3 linked regions of the Homo sapiens genome follow. The protein of the gene in region 3 binds, or shares a complex with, the protein of the main gene of each other region. Each region holds a gene or a part of one and is shown on either strand. Other genes may lie near its edges.

Region 1 (7,026 bases), on a different chromosome or scaffold from region 3:
CAGCTAGCTCTCTTGCTGAAAATGAGCAACATAAGTACATGAAAAACCCAACAAGTAGGATTTGAAAGCGGGGCTAATTGTACCCTTATTTCTTCTGGGGATAAAAGTCTTAAACTTTGTTTAAAGTAAAATGTTTTTATTTCTGACGGTGATTTGTTTCACTTAAATAGCTTGTTGTTTGTTTCTTTCATTTCTCTTAAGTTTTGGGTTGGGTTTGGTTTGTTTCCCGCAAGTTTTGCCCGTGCCGCCTTCCTCCTTGTGCCTGCAGGGACATTTGCTGGTGTGGCAGCCTCCAGGCCCGTCCCCAGCCTTTTTCTTGGCACACCTTCTCTAGGATGGCTGGGACAGTGACTTAGCTTCTACACCTGTGACTAACCATTTTCATTCCATTCTACAGCTTTGACAATTATTCTGCCAATGTTATGGTAGATGGAAAACCGGTGAATCTGGGCTTATGGGATACAGCTGGACAAGAAGATTATGACAGATTACGCCCCCTATCCTATCCGCAAACAGTAAGGATTGCAGCTGACTTTTAATGTGTCTTTTAGAGTATATAATTCTCGAGCGCTTAATTAGTGCATGTTACCTATGGACTTGCTTATATTGCCATCATTTGGGTATTGAGTAAATAGCAAACAGGGTGGGATTGGTTCCATGTAAACATCCCCCTAGATGCAAGCCCAGGGGTTTTGTGTTTTGAGCGTTACCAGCTGTTCCATTGTTGGGCATTTTACAGTCTTCCATTTAGCTTTAGAATAACCGTATGAAAGAGCTACTTTTTGTTTTTGCAAACCAGTTTTTAACACCAATTAGTTTGAAGGCAGGTTTGCTGTGTGACATTTTTGTACCACAGAATCAAATTAGGCAGTTAAGATTCAGGTTTCTTTAAACCAAGTTAGTAACTAATCTCACAGGTTTAATACATTTTTTCCCACAAAATACATAATTTGTATGGATTTTGTGAACCATACAATAGAACCTAAATTTATTCAATGTAGATTGAAGTTTTGGTTTTGTAAAATGTATCCACTGTGTCTAATCAGAAAAAAAAGTTTACTTTTGCTTCTGTATCAGACAACTAAGTGATTTATTTACCAAAGCTAATTAGAGCAGTAGCTGGTGAAAATGGGTACTTAGAAGACATTGTTGTCATTAAAAGTTACTTTTCTTTAAGCAGCGGTTTTACTTGTGTATCATTTGCTTATCTTGTTACATGTTTGTTCTTCATTTTTAAAAGTATCTTTGGAAGCAAAAGTTAAATATGCTTGAGATTCCTTGGGTTGATAACCTGTGTGCATGTCCTAGCTCTGTGACTTCAGGCAGGCTTCATCCTCTCTCCAGTCTTTGCCTGTTTCCTTGTAGGGTGAGATGAGTACGTGTCACGCACGCATAACAGTCCTGGGCACATAGCACACACTGTGGGGCCAGCCGCTGTCAGAATTCTCCTGTTCCTCAGTGTGCGGGTGGGTCGGCCTAAAGAGTGCTGCTTTCCACGTTGTGCCCAAATGAGTGGAAGTTGTGTGGTGCTCAGCACACCTGGGTTGGCCGGAGGGATTGGGGTTGGGGTTGGGTTGAGGTCAGGAAGACATCCTAGAGAAAGGCTGGCTTTGAGCCCTGATTGATGATGAGGCAGCCTGTGATTGATTCAACCAGTACTTCGTTGTAGGGGGTAATATGGGTGAAATAACTTAGTGGTTAAGTCTGCTGTATTAAAAATCAGTCTATAATCCCCAGACAATTCAAATTCTTCAGTATCTTAGGAAACTCTTCTATACCCAGTGGATGTTTAATAATTCAGATTGTAAATGGATTTAAAAACATACTGGCTGGTAGAGTAGGAGACTTCAGCCCACTGGACACATGTGGAAGGGTGTGGTGTCATTCTGAGAAACAAGAGCCACCCTGCTGTGACTCAGGGGGTACCGGGCAGGGTGAGGCCTCTCTAAGGAAGGCCTCACAGTAAGTCAAGGGTGACTTGGCAGGAGTCCCACTTTGTGTTCTGAGGAACACACAGATAAGGAAAGAGAACTCTCCTCAGCTTGAACAAAGCTGTAGAGTGTGACGCCTGGTATCAAAGTAGGTGTTGTCCTCATAGGGCTAGAACTTAAACTTCATGTTTCCTCTGTGTGAGACTGTGGACTGCTTTCCTATAAAATATTTGAGGAGCAAGGAGGGAGTGGGACATGGTTCTTGCCCTCAGGTAGTTCACAGAAAAGTCCCATAAACTGTGTAAGACACCCTGTGCTAGCAAGGGGGTGAGCCGGGCGCTTAAGGAGCAAGAGGGGCGAGCACCCACCCAGCAGTGGAAGCATTCCTGTCTGGACTCCTTCAGAGATAAGGAAATTATCTTGACAACTCAGGGGCAGGCCACAGATGCTCAGATACCAGTGTCTGGAAGGTCTCATCCCTTTGAGCCACACTGTCCTAAGAAGAACTGGATCTGGTAGTAACATGCTGGCACCTGGGTCTCTTGTTGATAAAGGGGAAACCTCTAAATTTTGTACTACATGGAATGTGGTCCCTGATTGCTGGCTCTGTGGTCTGCAGACCTGTTGATGTAGCTCATCCAAGACTGCTTAGACACTCTCCTGAAGGACCAGTTGGAAGATTTCTTATCTAGGGTGTCCTAAAAAGAGATGTTACATTTCTTGTGGTCATTTAACATTGGCATCCTCTCTATTGGGCAGCTCTGTCGGGCTAAGTCTGTTCAGACCATTCATTTCTTCTTCGTTCTCCAAAAGATGGTGAGCAGGTAGTCGCCATTCTTAGTTGAAATTGCCCTTCAGGTTTTTATTTCCCGAATTACGTAATCCTTACATTATTTTCTCTTGAAAATCTTTGCTAAGTTCTGCATACTCATCTTCAGTTGCTATGCACAGAATCAAGTCTTGTCAGAGTAACGCTCAAGTCCAGCATCTTCCCTTGTGTAGATCACCTGTATTTATTTGCCTGCTTGTACCAGCATTGGTGGTGTGAGTGGGAGCCTAAGTGACCTGTCAGTGTCACAGCGAGTCCTGAGCCCTGTGTGTGTCCTGAGACTCAGGCTGTGCAGCGGGTTCGCTGAGATGCTGAGCCTCCATGTTGGGGTCAGCCAGGACCCCAGTGCGTCATGCCAGTTGTTTCATTTTCTCTCTAGGCTAAAAGTTGTTGTTGTTGTTGTTGTTGTTTGAGACAGAGTTTCGCTCTTGTTGCCCAGGCTGGAGTGCAATGGTGTGATCTTGGCTCACTGCAACCTCCGCTTCCCAGGTTCAAGTGACTTTCCCGCCCTAGTCTCTCAAGTAGCTGGGACTACAGGCATGTGCTACCATGCCTGGCTAATTTTGTTTTGTATTTTATTTTTTTTGAGACGGAGTCTTGCTCTGTCGCCCAGGCTGGAGTGCAATGGTGCGATCTTGGCTCACTGCAAGCTTCACCTCCTGGGTTCACGCCATTCTCCTGCCTCAGCCTCCCAAGTAGCTGGGACTACAGGCGCCCGCCACCACACCTGACTAATTTTTTATATTTTTAGTAGAGACGGGGTTTCACCATGTTAGCCAGGATGGTCTTGATCTCCTGAGCTTGTGATCCGCCCGCCTTGGCCTCCCCAAGTGCTGGGATTACAAATTTTGTATTTTTAGTAGAGACGGGGGTTTCTCCACTTTGGTCAGGCTGGTCTCCAACTCCTGACCTCAGGTGATCCGCCTGCCTCTGCCTCCCAAAGTGCTGGGATTACAGGCGTGAGCCACTACGCCTGGCCAGTGCTAGAGGTTTTAAAGTGGTGGGCTAGACTCCTGTGATGGTAGATAAAAAGAAAAACTGTGGTGTTCAGCTTGGCAGTTTTGAGTTTCAAAAGGCCTCAGCTTTTGTGAGGTTGGCTGTTACAAGTGCAGCCAGAGAGCACCAGGCACACACATGTGGTTCCGCAGAACTAGAGTTGTTACTCTTCGCCGCGAGGGAAACACGCACCTGGGGACTGTGGGAATTCGGCCCTCACTCTTACTGGCCGGGAGCAGGGGATATTTGGTGATTTTTGTGGTTTGTATGATGATCTTGGATTTGTCACTACTTAGAAACGATTATGAGTTGTTTTTTTTAAAGTTTACTTACTTTTGGTCCTATTTCAGCACAGTCACACAGGTGACCTTCTCTGATGTTAGTGTTCTGCGAGATTATTCTATTCAATAGTAACACCTCCACCAGGGCGAAGCTGCGAGTGCCAGGCTGGTTCTCATACGTCAGGGCTGCCTGACCCTTTTACAGGATTACAGGCGTGAGCCACTGCGCCTGGCCAGAATGTCTGTGTGTTTTAAAATTCCAAACTTGAAAGTAAAATCCAGGTGGATAGCATTTGGAAGAGAATAAAACGAAGTAGAAACAACACTACTTTTTTGTAGTGAGATCTCAGCTGTCCAGATGCCCGCCCTGTCTTACTCCATGGAAAGTGGACCCATCTGTTGTGGATGGTTCCACCAGTGGGCAGGAGGCTGTGGGAAGAGCAGCCCTGGCTACACTTACCACCGAGGAGGGAGTGGTGTGTGATGCAGGAGTAACAAAGGCGTTGAAGGCACCACGTGTGTAACAGGCACGCGGGAGTCTGGGTTAGTCAGAAAGGGGAAAGCAGTGCTCAGGTTGACTGGAAACATAGGCCGGTGACCGGAGACAGCCTGAGGCTCCAGAACACACAAGTGACCTGTGAGGAAGGAAACTGAGAGACCCTGGAGAGACACCGGTGGTGCCCTCTCAGGTCCTCTTGAGTGTTACGAGGACGGGGAAGAAATAGAGCCTCCCAGCCAGGGTCAGCCAGCACAGCCTCTGTATGTGAAGCGTCAGGACAGCGACGGCCGGGAGGAGGGGATGCTAGGAAGTGAGTACCAGAAGCACTAGACAGGGTTTTGGGAAGCTATATTTAGCTGGGGACGAAGAAGGAACAAGGAAGGAACAGGCAGATGGCATAGCACGAACGCCGGGTGGAAAGTGGAACTGCTCGCTCCTGTCGTGTGTGTCTCTTCTCCATCAAAAAAGAGGCTCTTAAAAATCGAAAGCATGCCACAGATACGATCAGAGGCTCTTTGGAAGCTGCATTTTTGTAACTGGTTCTCGATGATCCTCTCCCATGGTAAAGATTTGGCACCATATGAAGTCCTTGGGAGGACAAATCTTCAACAGTAGCCCATAGATGAAACCCAGATAGCTGTGGAAACTAATGTGCTCTTTGAATGTTAAGTCAGGAAAGCTTGAGTGGCCTGGCACGGTGGCTCACGCCTGTAATCCCAGCACTTTGGGAGGCCGAGGTGGGCGGATCACGAGGTCAGGAGATCGAGACCATCCTGGCTAACACGTTGAAACCTCGTCTCTACTAAAAATACAAAAAATTAGCCGGGCGTGGTGGCGGGCACCTGTGGTCCCAGCTACTCGGGAGGCTGAGGCAGGGAGAATGGTGTGAACCTGGGAGGCGGAGCTTGCAGTGAGCCAAGATCGTGCCACTGCACTCCAGCCTGGGCGACAGAGCGAGACTCCCTCTCAAAAACAAAAAAAAAAAAAAAAAAGAAAAGAAACCCCGTCTCTACTAAAAATACAAAAAATTTAGCTGGGCGCAGTGGCGGATACCTGTAGTCCCAGCTACTGGGGATGCTGAGGCAGGAGAATGGCGTGAACCCGGGAGGTGGAGCTTGCAGTGAGCCGAGATCGCGCCACTGCACTCCAGCCTGGGCGACAGAGCGAGACTCTGTCTCAAAAAAAAAAAAGAAAAAAAAGAAAAAAAGAAAAGCTTGAGTGAGATGAAATTAAAATAATTTTCTCATTTTGAGACAGGGTCTCGCTCTGTCACCCAGACTGGAGTGCAGTGTCACAATCTCGCCTCACTGCAACCTCCACCTCCCGGGTTCAAGCAGTTCTCTGCCTCAGCCTCCCGAGTAGCTGGGATTACAGGTGCCTGCCACCATGCCCGGCTAATTTTTTGTATTTTTAGTAGACACAGGGTTTCACCATCTTGGCCAGGTTGGCCTTGAACTCCTGACCTCGTGATCCACCTGCCTCGGCCTCCCAAGGTGTTGGGATTAGAGGCGTGAGCGCTTTTCTTAAAAGAGTTCCAGGGTTCTATGTTGGAAGAGCGAGTTTGTCAGTTTTTATTGGAACAAAGAAATGAATTGACAGCATTGTGATAAACACTGGAAGTGTCACTTCTAAAATTTGTCCATGGCTGAAAGTGGTGGCTCATGCCTGTAATCCCAGCACGTTGGGAAGCCAAGGTGGGTGGAGCACCTGAGGTCAAGAGTTTGAGACCAGCCTGGCCAACATGGTGAAACCTGGTCTCTACTAAAAATACAAAAAATTAGCTGGGCGTGGTGGTGTGTGCCTGTAGTCCCAGCTACTTGGGAGGCTAAGGCAGGAGAATCGCTTGAACCCAGGAGGCAGAGGTTGCAGTGAGCTGAGATCTCACCATTGCACTCCAGCCTGGGCAACAGAGCAAGACTCCGTCTCAAAAACGCTTGTCCTTAAGGGGTGGCTTCCCCCAGACCTACAAAGTAGCCCAGAATTGGAGGTCTTAGTGTCAGCAACAGTGCTGATTTTGATAATGCAAGTCTGTACATTCAAACCAGTCTCCCAGAACTAGGTGGAAGATAGGAACATTTCTGCATAGGAGACTTGGAATGTTCTGGCAGCATTAAAACCCTGAGGCCCGGCTATGTTCTGGGAGAGCCCTTTGGCAGGCATCATTTACAGACGGGTCCTTTTCCTGTATGCTGTGGCTTCAACTAGGCTGTGTCTGAGAACTCGGATGGAGCACTTGAAAGTGCCCGTGGCTCCCGCCTGCCTTTGCGGTAAGGGACAGTGCAGAACATCTCCGGCTGTGCCAGCTGTTGTAGATTCTGGTGGGTGCTGCCATGGGAGGAGGAGCACGTTGTTGCCCCCCCTCAGGATCTCCCTGACCTCTGTCTTCACCATCGTTGAACTTAACGCCTGCTTTTGACCAGGTAGCGTGGAGTGTTTCAGTGGCATTTGTCATCGAAGATATGTTAGAATCTATTGTATGCTTTTGGATCT
Region 2 (7,026 bases), on a different chromosome or scaffold from region 3:
TGTAACTTATCACTATCAAACAATCTTTGACATTCCTTTAAGGGAAAACCATTACATTATAGTTTCTTTTTGTCCATTTTTAAGCAGGGGGTATTTATATTATCAATTAGCATTATTTGAGCATTTGGCAGCACAACCCACATTTATTTCCTCATGGAAGAGACAAGTTAGAAGTTTTCCTTGTTGAAAATGAAATGCACTCCCCGAGGGCCAGACTCAGAGTTGGAGATGCTTTGTTTACTCAGGGTTTCAGCCAAGGCTTCAGGTCCACAGAGGAAAACTCCTATTCTGGTACTTTTGGGAAAGAAAAAAAAAGACAATTTCAAGCTTTGGGATGAGATGTCTACAAAGCAGGTAGGTGAATTTCCCGTTAATTTGAGGCCCCAGGGCAGAGTCCCCTCTGCTCCTTTTTCTTTTCCACAAATAGCAAAGGGATCATATTGCTCAGAGGGAGTGTGGTTCAGCCTGTTTGTGTGAGCATCTGGATAGTTCAAAAGGTAGTTGACTTCCCTGGCAAAAGTAAAATCCAACCAAGGTTTTTGGAAACTTCTATCACAGAGAAAATGGTGGTGAATTCATGAGTCCGTGGGCTACTTTCCTTCAGGGCTCTGTGCCCCCTGGCATCTTGAAATTAGGAACAAGCTAACTATGCCAACCACTCAGTGTGGCTTCATTTCTCTAAATTTTAGAGTCTGAAGCCCTGTTCAAAGTGTGGTTTCTGATCAGTAGCCTTGGCGTCAGCTTTTTAAAAAATGCAGATTACCTGGCCCTACCTCAAATCTTCTAAATTGGTATCTGCATTTTAAAGAGATCCCCAGGCACTTTGTATGCTCCTTACAGTGCAAAAAGCAATAGTCTGAAGGGTACACGTATGGTGATCTCTTGAGTTTCTTAGGTGTTCTAGCAAGATAAGGGATCCCCCTCAAGGTTTTATAATGACTAAAGTTTTAGTGAGAGCAGAAAGCACCTTGAGACATCTGTCAACTTAAGATTTTAGACCCAGAAGCTTTTAGAACTGAAAGTGGGGACAGTGTCTTCTTAACAATATGTATAAATTATATTGAATCTTTAAAAGAAGTAGATACACTAATGAAATTTAGGTGACTAAAGAAAAGAACTAAGCTGTGGCCCTACTTGGGACAGGCAGGTTGAGAAAATCTGAGATGGGGACCTGGAAATACTTGTTTTTAATTAATCTCCAGGTAATTTGGTATAATTTAAAGATCCTTCTTAAAGTTGAAGATATCTGGAATCTTCTGTTGGGCATGAATTCAATCTTTATATAGTAATATACATATTTGAGTTTCTAAAATATATAAGTTTAGATATGTATAGGGGCTGCCGCTTTAGGCAGATGCAAGCCTCAAAAACATCTTGGTGACAGACTCCTTACTTAGGGTGTTGACTTGCAATTGTCTTGAATTCATTATCCCAGTTGGGCCGTCCATACAAAGTCTTTTGTTTCAGGCCTGTGATCACATCTTTCTCCTCATCATGGTGCACAGCAAAGTGATTGGCCTACAGGAAAGGACATGAATTCAGAAAAAAAAGAGACATTCTGTAAAAGCACATACAATGTATTTACATCCTTCACAAGCTATTCTAACCAAGGCACCCTGCTGGATGCTGAAAGGTAAACAAAGATAAATAAACTGGATCTCTCTCAAGCAATTTACAGTCTAGAAAGGGAGACTTCGAAGTATAAATATAAATAATCCCATATGTCGAACAGGGTATGATGTGTGTCATGAAGGAGGCACAAGCGTCCTAATGAGAACAAAGAAGGAAGGTGAAGTGGAAGAATAGGGGAAGGGTTAGGGCCGCAGTATTTGAGTCAGGCATTGATGGATGAATAGTGTCTCACTGTTTTTCTCTCTGCTCTATGTTTGACTTTTTCTCTCCACCCTAATATACTTCCACTCCTTTGGGAGAATTACTAAGAGATGTAACAATTTTAGACTAAAATGCAGCAATACTTTGGTAGCATAAGACATCAAATCAAGCCTAAAGCTAGTGTGTGTGTATGTGTGTGTGTGCACGCACATATGTGTATATAGTCACATACTGTTTTTCTGCTACCATTCTAGGAGGCTTCAGTTTGAGCAACAGGTATTTTTCATAAAAGTGGTTAATTAAATTTATTTTTAAAAAGCAAATCAGATTTGAAATTCACTAGATGGATGATGGTCATAGAGGAGGTTAAGAAAGGTGGGCACTCCAATTTAATAATTCTATAGATATCAGTTTTGCAAAGCAAAATAATTACTTTTTCAATACAAATAAATAACTGATTTAAAAAAGAAACCTGTGCATGGCTTTTAAAATAACAGAACAGTAAAGCAATTTATATACTATAGATTTTTTTCCTGAGTTTTATTTTTATCAAAGCATTTTTGTTTTGTTTTTAAATTGCAGAACTGGCATTTTGAAACCACTTTTTATGGAGCAACAATTCTTATCGTTATGTTTCCCTAATCTATATTTGCTACAAGATTCCTTTAAGACTTGGAGAATCTGTGATAAACAATATGTTGAAACCCAAATGGGAATTCAGTCTTCACAGTGACAGGGTGCACATGGAAGATTCCCAGGGTTGTGGAGTCAATGTCTATGTATGCCCAGTTGCTACAGTTTGAATGTATCCTCTCCAAAATTCAGATGTTGCCTATGTGATAGCATTAAGAAGTGGAGCCTTAAAAAGGTGATTAAGACATGAAGGATCATCCCTTATGAATGAGTTAAGGGCTTTGGAAAAGAGTCATCACACAGTATTTGACGAGCCTTCCCTTTTTCTTTCCACCATGTGAAAACACAGTATTTCTCCCACCCAGAAGATGCAGCCTTTGCTAGACAACCAAACCTGTTGGTGTCTTGATCTTGGACTTGCCAGCCTCCAGAACTTTGAGAAAATAAATTTCTGTTCTTTACAAACTACCCAGTCTTGGGTGTTTTGTTATAGCAGCACAAATGGACTAAGACACCAGCTGAGACACTGGACAGAAATATGCAGAGACTCTTGCCTTAGCTCCTCACTCATGGTGATAGCTTATGCTGCTTCCAGGCCAAGTCATTAACGTTTGCTTACTTACAAAGATGTTACCACTCCAGGAATCATTACCTTGTTTCAGGGTTTGTCAATTTCAGCACTGTTGATATTTGGGACTGTATAATTCTTTGTTGTGGGGGGCTGTCTTTTTAATTGTAGGATATTTACATTGCCAACTGTCTCTGGTGTGTGTCTTGGGGAGGAGCAGAGCAAAATTGTCCCAGTTGAGAACTATTGGCTACTTTATTATAGTGGTCTCCAAACATTTTTGAAAGAGCACTCTCATTGTACACACACATACACACACACATACATGCATATATATCACATTCATTAGATATATAGTAATTTATTTATAAATGATAATCATGAACTACTGCAAGATGCTGAAAGGACAGGCTCTGGCACATTCTGTCTCTGTCACTTACTTGTTGGGTGCTCTTAGGAAAATGACCTAACCTGGTCTGAGTTTTTTCATCTGTAAAGTGTGGAAAATAATAAGAGCTACTTCATAGGGTTGGTGACATGATAAAATTAGACAATCTATGTGACTAGATACATAAGAATAATACCTGGCAATATATATGCATAATAATTATAAATGTAGTGAGTATATTATAAAACATACAAAAGCATATAAATTAAATGATTTTATAAATACATATATACATAGTACATATAAATATATATGATACATATATAAATACATATTAAAATATATATATACAGAATCCTTTATATGCTTATGTATGTTATATAAACAGATGCTCCTCAGCTTACAATGGTGTTATATCCTGATAAAACCATCACTAAATTGAAAATACCATAAGTCTAAAATGGGTTTAATACATCTAACTTAATAAACATCATAGTTAGTTTAGTCTAGACTACCTTAAATGTGCTCAGAACACTTATATTAGCCTACAATTGCACAAAATCATCTAACATGAACCCTATTTATAATAAAAGGTTTAAGACCACATGTAATTTATTGAATACAGTACTGAAGTATGGCTTGTACTGAAGTATGGCTTCTACTGAATGCATATTGCTTTCACTTCATTGTAAAGTTGAAAAATCATAAGTTGAACCATTATTAAGTTGGGGAGTGTCTGTTTTACACACACACACACACACACACAGAGACAGAGAGAGAGAGACAGAGAGACAGAGAGAGAGACAGAGAGAAAGAGAAAGCTAAATTTTCCCCAAAATAACCCTGTGCATCATCTCAATCACCTGGTTTCAGAGTGCCTGGTGGGAGAATTGCTCTAATAATGTCAAAGTGATGGCTTTTATTCCCTCACAGGCTCCTTGGCTTTGATTCTAATCTGAGCAGTCTAAATATAATGTGGCGATACTAAATGAGAGTGAATGGACCGGATCACCAAATCCACTAAACATACTTAGAAAAAATAGTACACAAGACACACCAATAACCAAGGGGAAGTTCGTAAGCCCTGTACACTATGGGAAGGACCTGAGCCTTGGAGTCTTGTCCTTACCTGAGACTCATCCCAGCCAGTGAGGTAGATGTTGTAGCTGAGGAAGCCGGCATTGTTCCTTTCCTGCATCTGGCTCTCCAGCAGTTGCAGCAGATCTGCAAACCACTCAAAGGCATGTGTGTCCCGGCACAGCCAGTAGAAGTAGATCTGAAAATGGGGTGGATCATGAAGCAGATTATATTTGGCAGGCCCTATCAGCATTACCATGTGGAATTCCACTTTCTGTCACCTAAACTTTTTCTTGATGCTCAGAATGCCTAGAAACATAGATTTTCAGAAGGCTCTGGACATTTCACAGGGTAGTTTACATGAACCTGCTCTGGCCTTCACTCTAGCAGGGCAGTAAATAAGTAACTTGACCTCAGAAATACACAACTTAAGAAAAAACTATTAGCCCACCAAATTTCCCTCTGAGTCTGCTCTTACTCTCCCAGAATCTCTGGCTTCCTTCGAACCTCTTCTCAGAAAGCCTGATGGAATCTAGACTAGCAGGGATTGCCACAGAAATTCTTCCCTGGCTGCTACTGCCAGACATTCATGAGTTCCGAGGGGAAAAATAAGGTTCTATGCACATCTCCTCCACATGGAAAAGAGGTACAGGGAGAATGAAAAGTCAAGGTAGGCTTAATGTCCCTATTAGAGTTTATCTTTACAGTTATTAGAATGGCCTGAGGTTTATTTAGGATGCCCTTTATTACACAATAAAACCAAATTTATAGGTAACCAAAAAATCTCCTGTGAATTGATCCTGAGGAGATATTCATAAGTAGAGTTTCAGGTCTCCTCTCCTCCCTTTGCAAAAAAAGTATTGGGTGAGTGGAGGGGGTGGGGCGCGGCTGGAAATTGAATCAATCTCAGTATCTAACACAAGATGAAAGAAAAATTATTCAATATCCTCTCAATAGAACATGAAGAGATCATTTAAAGTCATCATTATAAAGCCTGTGAAGACATTGAAAAACACTTTCTATAATGTTTTTTTAAAAGCAGGACATGAAATTATACATACTTAATATTTACAACCTTCTAAAAATATGTAAACATGGAAAATATTAGAAGAGAATATACAAAAATTACAGCTATTAAGTTGGGGCTGTGAATACTTTCCCAACTTTCTTTCTTCTGAATTTCCAGCAACACTATACAAATACAATATATTCCCTTCACTAATAGGCCTACTTATCTAGAAGCACATTAGATTTAACAAATATTCTTTTGAAGAAAAGCCTGTCTCTCTGGAACCACCGGAAGCTTTTCTTCACTTCCCATGGTCTCTGCCAACCTTAGCCCTGAAAGCACTCTCAGGCCTCACATGGCAGAGTATGGTTACTGCTCTAAGGCCCTCCGATAAATGAAAGGACTTACCTTTTTGAGCTTCAGATTGGTGGCGTTATTGCAATATTTGTACCAGACTGACTTGAGAATGGATGCGAAGGGTGTGACCCCAATCCCTGCTCCCACTAACATCACCACCTCATAGCTGAACACATCTTCACTGGCAGTGCCAAAGGGCCCATCAACCGCTATCCTGAAGGGAAATGGGGAGGAGATAGTTACAGAGATGTCTTGCTCTTCAGAGTGAGATGGGGCACCCATAATTATTGGGGATGTGCAACATGTTAATTCAAATTGGAATAATGTATCTATTGGGTGCTTCCTTCTATGAAATAGCTTTCAAGTAACCAAACTTAGTGCCAACGTTGGGTTTGGAAGTAAAAAGAGAAATATTTGGCTAACCAAAAACATTCGGTAACTCAGAACAAGTTTTTTTTTTTTTTAATCTCCCCACCCCTCTTCACACACAACAACGCCCCCTCCACACACACCCTATGTCTTGCCAGGACATCCCACTCTTGAAATTCTTGCATACGGTGCACCCTGAAGTGAGGATTTGCTGCATCATTACATCTTGTAGATTTAATGTCTCCACTTTTCATTTATCTATTCATTGAGTTATTCAACAAACTCTCAAACCTTTCTTTAGCACCTACTAAGTGCCTTATAGCATGTTAGGCATGCAGGGAAAAGGAGGCAAAGGGGCTAATATATGGCATTTAACCTCAAATAAATTATGCCAATGAAAATTTAAGAATATTTTTGATACACTACAATTATATTTGTTAGGAAAGTTAATATAACTTGGCCTTGACCCTTACATATTTAAAGGAATTTGGGAGTATTTATTTCTAATATTTGATTCAAGGTTTTCATATTTCACATAAGATTTATGAAAATATGCATAAACACACTACACATATGAAACGGTGACCACAGAAATAGCTACCTATATTCTTAGAACCTGTGTGTTTTGTTGGAGACTTAGTAAAACATGGAGGAAGAGGAGCTATTTAGTGCCATTTTTCCTGAACTCATATACGTTGGTAATATGTACTTTTTACTCACTTAGGTAGTTTCCACGCATCTTGAAACTCCTGCTTATCACAGCCACAAGCATTGAACAGCCCCTCTGTCCAG
Region 3 (7,502 bases):
GATGTGGTGGCACATGCCTGTGGTCCCAGCTACTTGGGGGACTGAGGTAGGTCAATCGCTCAAGCCCAGGAGGTGGAGACTGCCGTGAGCTGTGACGGCACCACTGCACTCCAGCCTGGGCAACAAAGTAAGGCACCCTGTCTCAAAAAAAAAAAAAAAAAAAAAAAAAAAAAATCCAATGATACAAATAAAGACAAAGTGGACTATAAGGGTGCAGACACTAATGGATTATCACCAACAGAAATCTTAGAAGAAAAGAAACACTAAAGCATTTTCCCAAAGGAGCTCATCATTTTAAAAATGGACTTGACAATATGAAGCGCCTTCTTTGTAACTGTCTCTGACCTTCTCTGAGACTAGAATTCAGAATAGATAATTTAGACATTTACCTGATACTAATAAAAAATACATATCTATATTTAAAATATAGTTAGTTATATTTAATGACCTCATTCCCAAGTTCCTTTTTCATTAGTGTAGCTTTCATTTCTATTATCGCTGTTTTAATAATATGATTTAATATGATTAGATAGAAGCTTTGAGCCAGTAGACACTATGTTACTAAATCAGTACTTTAAAATCTTTGGTCTTCTGTCTTTCATTCATATGAATTTAACTGCTGTTTGCTCTAATTTCTTTGAGTTCTCCTAGTTTGAGTAGAGTACAATTTTACTGTGAAACAATGCAGCGAGACTGTGCTATGAAGTGAAGGTAGAGTTTTTGGAGGTGATAATGATGTCAAACTTAAAGATACAATTCCTATCCAACACAACAGAGCACCTTGTCCAGGAGAGTAGTAATTACTATTTATTGCTCTGTGGAAGATAAAAAAGATAGGGAAATAGGAGAAGCTTCTTTGAAAAATGAAACATCATTAGACGGGCTTGGTGGTGCATGCCTGTAATCCCAGCTACTTGGGAGGCTGAGGCAGGAGAATCACTTGAACCCAGGAGGCAGAGGTTGCAGTGAGCCGAGATTGCACCACTGCACTCCAGCCTGGGTGACAGAGTGAGACTCCATCTCAAAAAAAAAAAAAAAGAAAGAAAAAATGATATCTAATGTAATAATGAAATTTTAACCCTTGTTGCATTTCTTGTATTCCTATGAATGTATTGAACATTCAGTTTAAATAAATAATAAAATTTATTGCAAATGAAAATAATTAAAATATTATATAAATTGTTATATTTGTTTACTATACAAACTTATACATGAATAGTATACAATTAAAATGATAATGAATAAGAATGCATATAAATGCTAGTAGGAAGGGCTCAAGCAGGAAAACAAAGAAAGGCAGAAGGAATGAGAAGGCTAGAAGCAGAGGAATGCCAGGAGAAACAGAGACATGTGGGCCTGAAGGCCTGGGAGCTGAGAAGTGAGTGGTGGCCCACACAACCTTGCCAAGGATCCCATATCCAGGCCAAGGCAGGAGGCTACAGTCCCTGCTGGCATAGCTGTGCCCAGACTAGCTGCCAATCTCTTCTCCTGGACAATGTGCACTTTGTGTCCATCAGCCCTCAGAATGTGTGGTGCTGTTCACTCAGCCCCTCAGCAGGCCCCTGAGAGGAGGTGGGGCCATGTCCTTCCTCCAGCCAGAGGTGGGGGGTCCTGCCATGCTCTGCCTTAGAGCCTGAGATTGACTTGTCAAGCTATGTGAGAACATTTCAGTCACTTCTCTGTCTTCCTGTCAGGAGGGTGTGGCTGAGGCTTGTTTACCTACTGTTGGAGTGTGGAAGGGACTGATTCTTTAAGGGACCTGGGGAGTCAACCACTGCCACACCTTGCAAAGACTGGCAGTAATCGGTAAAAATAATAACTAACTCTTATACAGTGGTGTGAAGTTCCACGAGACATTAATAGTTTGGCATCTCACTTAATTTTCATGATATTTAGAAACTCAGGAAGCTGAAAGCCAGATGTCTACATAGGCTACATAGCTTGCTTAAGACTAAAAGTCCAGAGAGAGACAGAGGCTAGGATTCGATCCTAGATCTTCTCCTTCCAAACTCCATACCCTTTCCACCTTACCACAACCAATCAAAAAAATAATTATCGAGAATGCTTAACTCCATACTATGGTATTTGAGTGAGAAAACATAACGAAAAAGATGCGAGACATCCCACACCATGCCCCCAGCAGACATCACTAGTCAATCACAGTACAATTTCCTCTTGCCAGCCTCAGCATCTTTAAAAGAGTCTCCTTTATAATTGATCAGAATTGTCACTTGGGATAAAAGCTATTTTTTGTAAGTGCCTCCCTTAAATCTCTTGAGCAGGCAAAGTCGACACACATGAAAGTCTTGGAAAGCCAAAAGAGGTGCCTTAGAATCAATAATCAGGTGTAAAGCGCTGGGATAGATAGAGATTCTGTGCCCAGAAGGAGTTCTGTGTAGAAGAAAGTACGACTAGGACAGCCTTCACAAAGGTGTTAAAGACACTTGTAGAATGATTTTAATTTAGAAGATGGAGAAAGAGGCAACCCTGGCTGCCCCTCACCTGCTCTCCACCTGGAGAGCTTTTAAAACTGGCTGCCTGGGGCCCCTCCCAGACCAGTTAAATCAGGCTGTCTAGGGGTGGAGCTTGGGCAACTTTTGTTCTTTTCAATCTCCCCAGAGGTTAGGTTTCCGAAATGCAATGGGGTTGAGAATCATAATAACAAATGCACAGAGGAGGCCCGGAAAGAGGCACCTCCACTCACCTTCTCTGCTTCAGTCATGTTCTTCAGGATAGTGTACATGCAGCCAATGTTGAAGCAAATCCGGGAGTGGGGGTCCTGGACGGCACTGAAGGCATCCAGGGCTCCCTTCCAGTCCTTCTTGTCCGCTGCCAGCACCCCTTCATTCCAGAGGCTGATGGCCTCCACCAGGGACATGATTAGGTAGAAACTAGGAGGCCAAGAGAGCTGCCAGGAGACAGAGAGAAGACAGGTTGGAGCGTCTCCCCTAGCAGGGCTGCCTTAGTGGCCCCCAAGGTGTTCACTTTCTGGGCCAGATGAGTAGAATGGGGCCCAGCCTCCCTTAAGATAACTTCTCAGTGTTGCAAATGCATCAGGAAATGTCCCCACCTTTTGGCAACTGACTCATAACCCTACCATGAGAGAGAAAAGGAAAGAAGCAGAGAGAGAGAGGGCGAGTAGGGGTGGAGTGTGGAGGAGAGAGGAAGTACATCAGCTGCTGCCTGAAGGATCAGTTCCCCAAAATGCTTCTGCTCTGTCACCCAGCTCCTCTTCTCTCTCCCACCCCTGTTCTGTGGCAGCTTCTGGCCAAAGTTCTGCTTCTAGAGCCAGGGTAACCTTGGCAGGTAGAGGCACCTCCCTGGTGATAATGACAGGAGGCAGCCAAATGCCTAGGCAGATAGGGGCAGGTCCCTGGTGAAACCCCACCTTCAAGCCAAAAACAGCCTGAAGGCTGAAAGACTAGGCTACTGGTCCCAAATGAAACCCGTGACCTAGAGTGAGAACTTCTGTTCCTGTTTGTCTGCTCTTTCCCAATTAATTATTTCTGACTAATGCCTTTTAACCAATTGAATGTTGCCTTTTCCAGTACTACCTATGTCCTGCCCCTCCCCTATTCTGAGCCCATAAAAGCCCCAGACTCACCCGCACTGGGGGGACTTTCCTGCCTTTGGGTAGGGGAACCACCCCTGCATCCCCTCTCCACTGAAAGCTGTTTTCATCACTCAATAAAACTCCCCACCCAGGCCGAGTGGGCAGGCCATCTCCTGCAGCAGGTAGTGTGGCCCACTGAGGCCTGGGCAGGGTGTCACCAGCCAGAGGTTCCTGGCTTACAAAGTGATGGAGAAAAAATCCTGTGTCACTGGGCCTTGATTTCCACACCCTTGTTAAATGGGAGTGTCAGATGAGAGGATAATTCTTTCCAGTCTTGAATGAATTCCTTGCTCACTTTTTTGTAATCCCATAGGCTGTATTAATATGTTAGTGTTTATCTTGAGCTGAAATTATCATTAACAAATTTTTGAGACAGGATAATCTTTGGAGATCCATCTGATCTGGGCCTGAAATAACTTTTTTTTTTTTTTTTTTGAGACGGAGTTTCACTCTTGTTGCCCAGGCTGGAATGCAGTGACACGATCTCAGCTCATTGCAACCTCTGCCTCCTGGGTTCAAGCAATTCTCCTGCCTCAGCCTCCTGAGTAGCTGGGATTACAGAAGCCTGCCACCACGCCCTGCTAATTTTTGTATTTTTAGTAGAGATGGGGTTTCACCATGTTGGCCAGGCTGATGGTCTCGAACTCCTGACCTCAGGTGATTCGGCCTCCTCGGCCTCCCCTCAAAGTGCTGGGATTACAGGAGTGAGCCACCGTGCCCAGCCGAAATAACTTTTATGAACATTCATGAAGTTCAGAGGGGACCAATTTCCTGCAAATGTCAAAATTGGGAGCCACATGACAGTGAATTATGACTTCTCCCATCTTCCAGTGAAAAATTGAAGAGATGAAAGTCCTGCACTGATGACTAATGGATTTACTAGTCTCTGAAAAAACAGATTTAAGAGTTCTTTCCTTGCTTTTCCAGAAAAGTAAAAATCAGTAAAACCTCCCAGAGGAATAACTGGGGGTAAAGGGTATAGCCAATTTGGCTTGCTAAAATCCAGGCTTCTTTTTAGGTAAAATGCATGTTTATGGGGGTCAAATACTTAGATGCAAACTCTTGTTTTGTAGCAACTGAAAGAATTCACTCATTATCACCAAGCTTCCCCTAAAAGCCTGAAAATAAAACTTAAAAATGTATACTCCACAGTGCTTGTAGGATTGAAGGTGTGAGAATTAAGAAGACATGTGTGTCTTTGTCCAGATTGTTTTCCTGTGTTTACAAGGCCTTCCCAGCTCTCTTCTTTGCCTGGCAAACTCCTACTCATCTTTCAAAGCCCAGTTTAAATGTCACCAACTGTGCTAAATCTAGCCCTGAACTCTGGGTAGTAGGAGAATTTTCCTCTCCTTTGTACCACCTTTACCCAAAAACTTGCATCATACTTACTGCAATTTATCTCTTTATCTGCTCAATTCATGGGCTCCTTGGAAGTTGGGACCATGCCTTTTCATTCTAGGATCTCTAGCACAGATACTCAATACATGATGAAGGGATACATTCTAAAAGAAATTAGAAATCATTGGTAAATGACCTGCAGGTAGCAGTGATGGCAGAAAGAGGTATTGCTATTCCATCTAGTGAATAAATAATCAGGACTTGAATAGCACATTAATTATTCCTGAGAAAACCAAATGGATTTGTAGCTAAATTAGACTTCATTTTTAAAAAATGTTTTTGCCCTCCTATTATCCCACCCTGACACTCAGAACTCTCCTTAATCTGACTGCCAAGACTTTTCTAGCCTTATCCCCAGAACTTTCCTTCACAATCCCATACAAACTCTGCTGCTTACTCTTCTCCCGCTATGCCTTCATTCCTGCATCTGTGCGACTCGTGCTAGTTCCTCTTTCTAGGCTGCCCTCTCCCATGTCTGCACCTTCAAACCCACCTTGCATAGCCTTCGAAGGCCTGCTAAAATAGCACTCTCCTTAACACACTGCCCTGAAATCAGTCCTGCCTGAAAGCGCTCAAACCCATGATCTCGCCTTCTGAACTCCTGCATCTCCTTCTCCGCACCTCCCATGTGGCCCTTAATCACTCTTCACCAATGTATGTGCATGCAAGTCTTAGCACCTCAAATAGTGTGCCTCAGGAGGAAGTCCTGGGCTAACCCATGTTTGTATCCCCCAGGGCACTAGCAAAGCCATTCATGCTCCATTTCATCCACTTTCCCTCCCCTTCTCCTGTCACCACTCAGGCCAAGCCACTATCAACTCCCAGGTGAACATGATAGTCTTTTAACATTTCTTTGCCTCTCCATCCAGATTGAGCTTTTAAAAACACAAGTCAGATCACTTCATGGCCCCTGTTTTTAAACCTTCCATGGCTTTGCACTGCTCTCAGGATATAACCCGAACTCCTTCCCATGCTGCAGGAAGCCCCCTGCCTGCTGCCCTGTGCTCATTCCAGGTCATTTCCCCTCCTCCTCTCCCAAGAACTCCAGCTACACAGGCCTCCTTTCATGGTTTCATATGAGCCAGCCTCTTCCTCCGCCCATGTAACACTCTTCCCCCAAGCCTGCCTGGCTAGTTCCTACTCATCTTTCACTTCCTCAATGAGTGGCCTTTCTAGATCCATGACCTTGCTATGTGCACGGTTCTCTCTGATCATGTATTTGTTACAGTTTGTAACTGTATGTCATCTGTGACATTGTTTCTGTCCCTCAATGCAGGGGCAGTCTATTTAATCATTACTTGGTGCTGTTAGTAGACGGTCTGTTCAGCCACTGTCCATTCGCCTTCCTCCTTTTGGTAGAACCCCAGTTCTGTTCAAGCCTCCAGTTTCCTGAAGCCATGCGCTTCAGGAGGGAAAGTCTGCTAAGAATTTCTGGGAAAGATTTCTTCCCCAGTGATAAAAAATAAAACACATGAGAAGAAACAGCACTTGTTTCTCTACTAGACAGCATTGTGAGATGTGTCTGGAATATGGCAGCTGTCTTATAATCATGAGGGGAGACAACTAAGAACAAGCCATTGTCTGAAAGAAAAGAGAATGGAAAATTACAAAGAGCTCAGATGCTTAGTTATGCTGATGAGATGTGTTGCATTATCTGTTTTCTGCAAATCTGGCTGGGCACAATGGCTCACATCTGTAATCCCAACACTTAGGTGGGAAGATCCCTTGAGGTCAGGAGTTAGAGACCAGCCTGGGCAATGAAGCCAGACCCCATCTCTACAGAAAAACACTAAAAATTAGCCAGGCATGGTGGCACATGCCTGTAGCCCCAGCTTCTCAGGAGGCTAAGGTGGGAGGATCATTTGAGCTCAGGACTTCAAAGGCTGCAGTGAGTGATGATCACGCCACTGCATTCCAGCCTAGGTGACTGAGCAAGACTCCATCTCTTAAAAGATAAAAATAACGTTTTCTACAAGTCTGAAACTGATCTACCTTGGAATTTCTTGTTTGGTTAGATAATAAGTTTGTTTATTGTTTAAGTCATTCATATCAAGTTTTCTATTAGTTATGGTTTAAAATGTTCTGACACACACACCACTGGATTCTCGGTACCTAGTACAGGGCTTGGCATATAGCAGGTGTTCAATAAACATTACTTGTTAAATAAAATTTGTTGAGGCATTGGTTGGGTAACTCAGTTTCATCTCGATATTTTCAAAATTATTCCAAAATTCCAAATAAGCAAGATTTGCATATGATTGGTTAACACTACAAACTACTGTTGCATGTATTTATTCAGCTGGAAGCCAAGAACACTCCCAAGACCCTCCTTTTTTTTTCTGAGGAAGAAGCCTGTAAAATCAAAATAAAACTCATTATTCCTGGGCACTCAGGAAATACTTTTTCATTCCTACATTTAGATTTTAGTGTTCTATCGCTCTTTAACTTTTTCTGGTACATGAGACTTCTTTCTTAAGCTCCTCAAAGGATA

What was found. Proteins that work in one complex are often made in the same cells at the same time.
Region 1: NCF2 (region 3) and RAC1 share a complex: the UniProt entries of both Homo sapiens proteins name them as parts of the phagocyte NADPH oxidase complex.
Region 2: NCF2 (region 3) and CYBB share a complex: the UniProt entries of both Homo sapiens proteins name them as parts of the phagocyte NADPH oxidase complex.

What each region holds. Positions count from the first base shown.
Region 1 is NC_000007.14:6,391,527-6,398,552, forward strand, and holds part of RAC1 (ras-related C3 botulinum toxin substrate 1), read left to right. Parts: intron 1-397; coding exon 398-515; intron 516-7,026. UniProt on the Homo sapiens protein: Plasma membrane-associated small GTPase which cycles between active GTP-bound and inactive GDP-bound states.
Region 2 is NC_000023.11:37,804,059-37,811,084, reverse strand, and holds part of CYBB (NADPH oxidase 2), read right to left. Parts: coding exon 6,955-7,026; intron 6,080-6,954; coding exon 5,917-6,079; intron 4,699-5,916; coding exon 4,552-4,698; intron 1,519-4,551; coding exon 1,394-1,518; intron 295-1,393; coding exon 168-294; 3' UTR 1-167. UniProt on the Homo sapiens protein: Catalytic subunit of the phagocyte NADPH oxidase complex that mediates the transfer of electrons from cytosolic NADPH to O2 to produce the superoxide anion (O2(-)).
Region 3 is NC_000001.11:183,587,452-183,594,953, forward strand, and holds the start of NCF2 (neutrophil cytosol factor 2), read right to left. Parts: upstream 3,009-7,502; 5' UTR 2,879-3,008; coding exon 2,705-2,878; intron 1-2,704. UniProt on the Homo sapiens protein: Subunit of the phagocyte NADPH oxidase complex that mediates the transfer of electrons from cytosolic NADPH to O2 to produce the superoxide anion (O2(-)).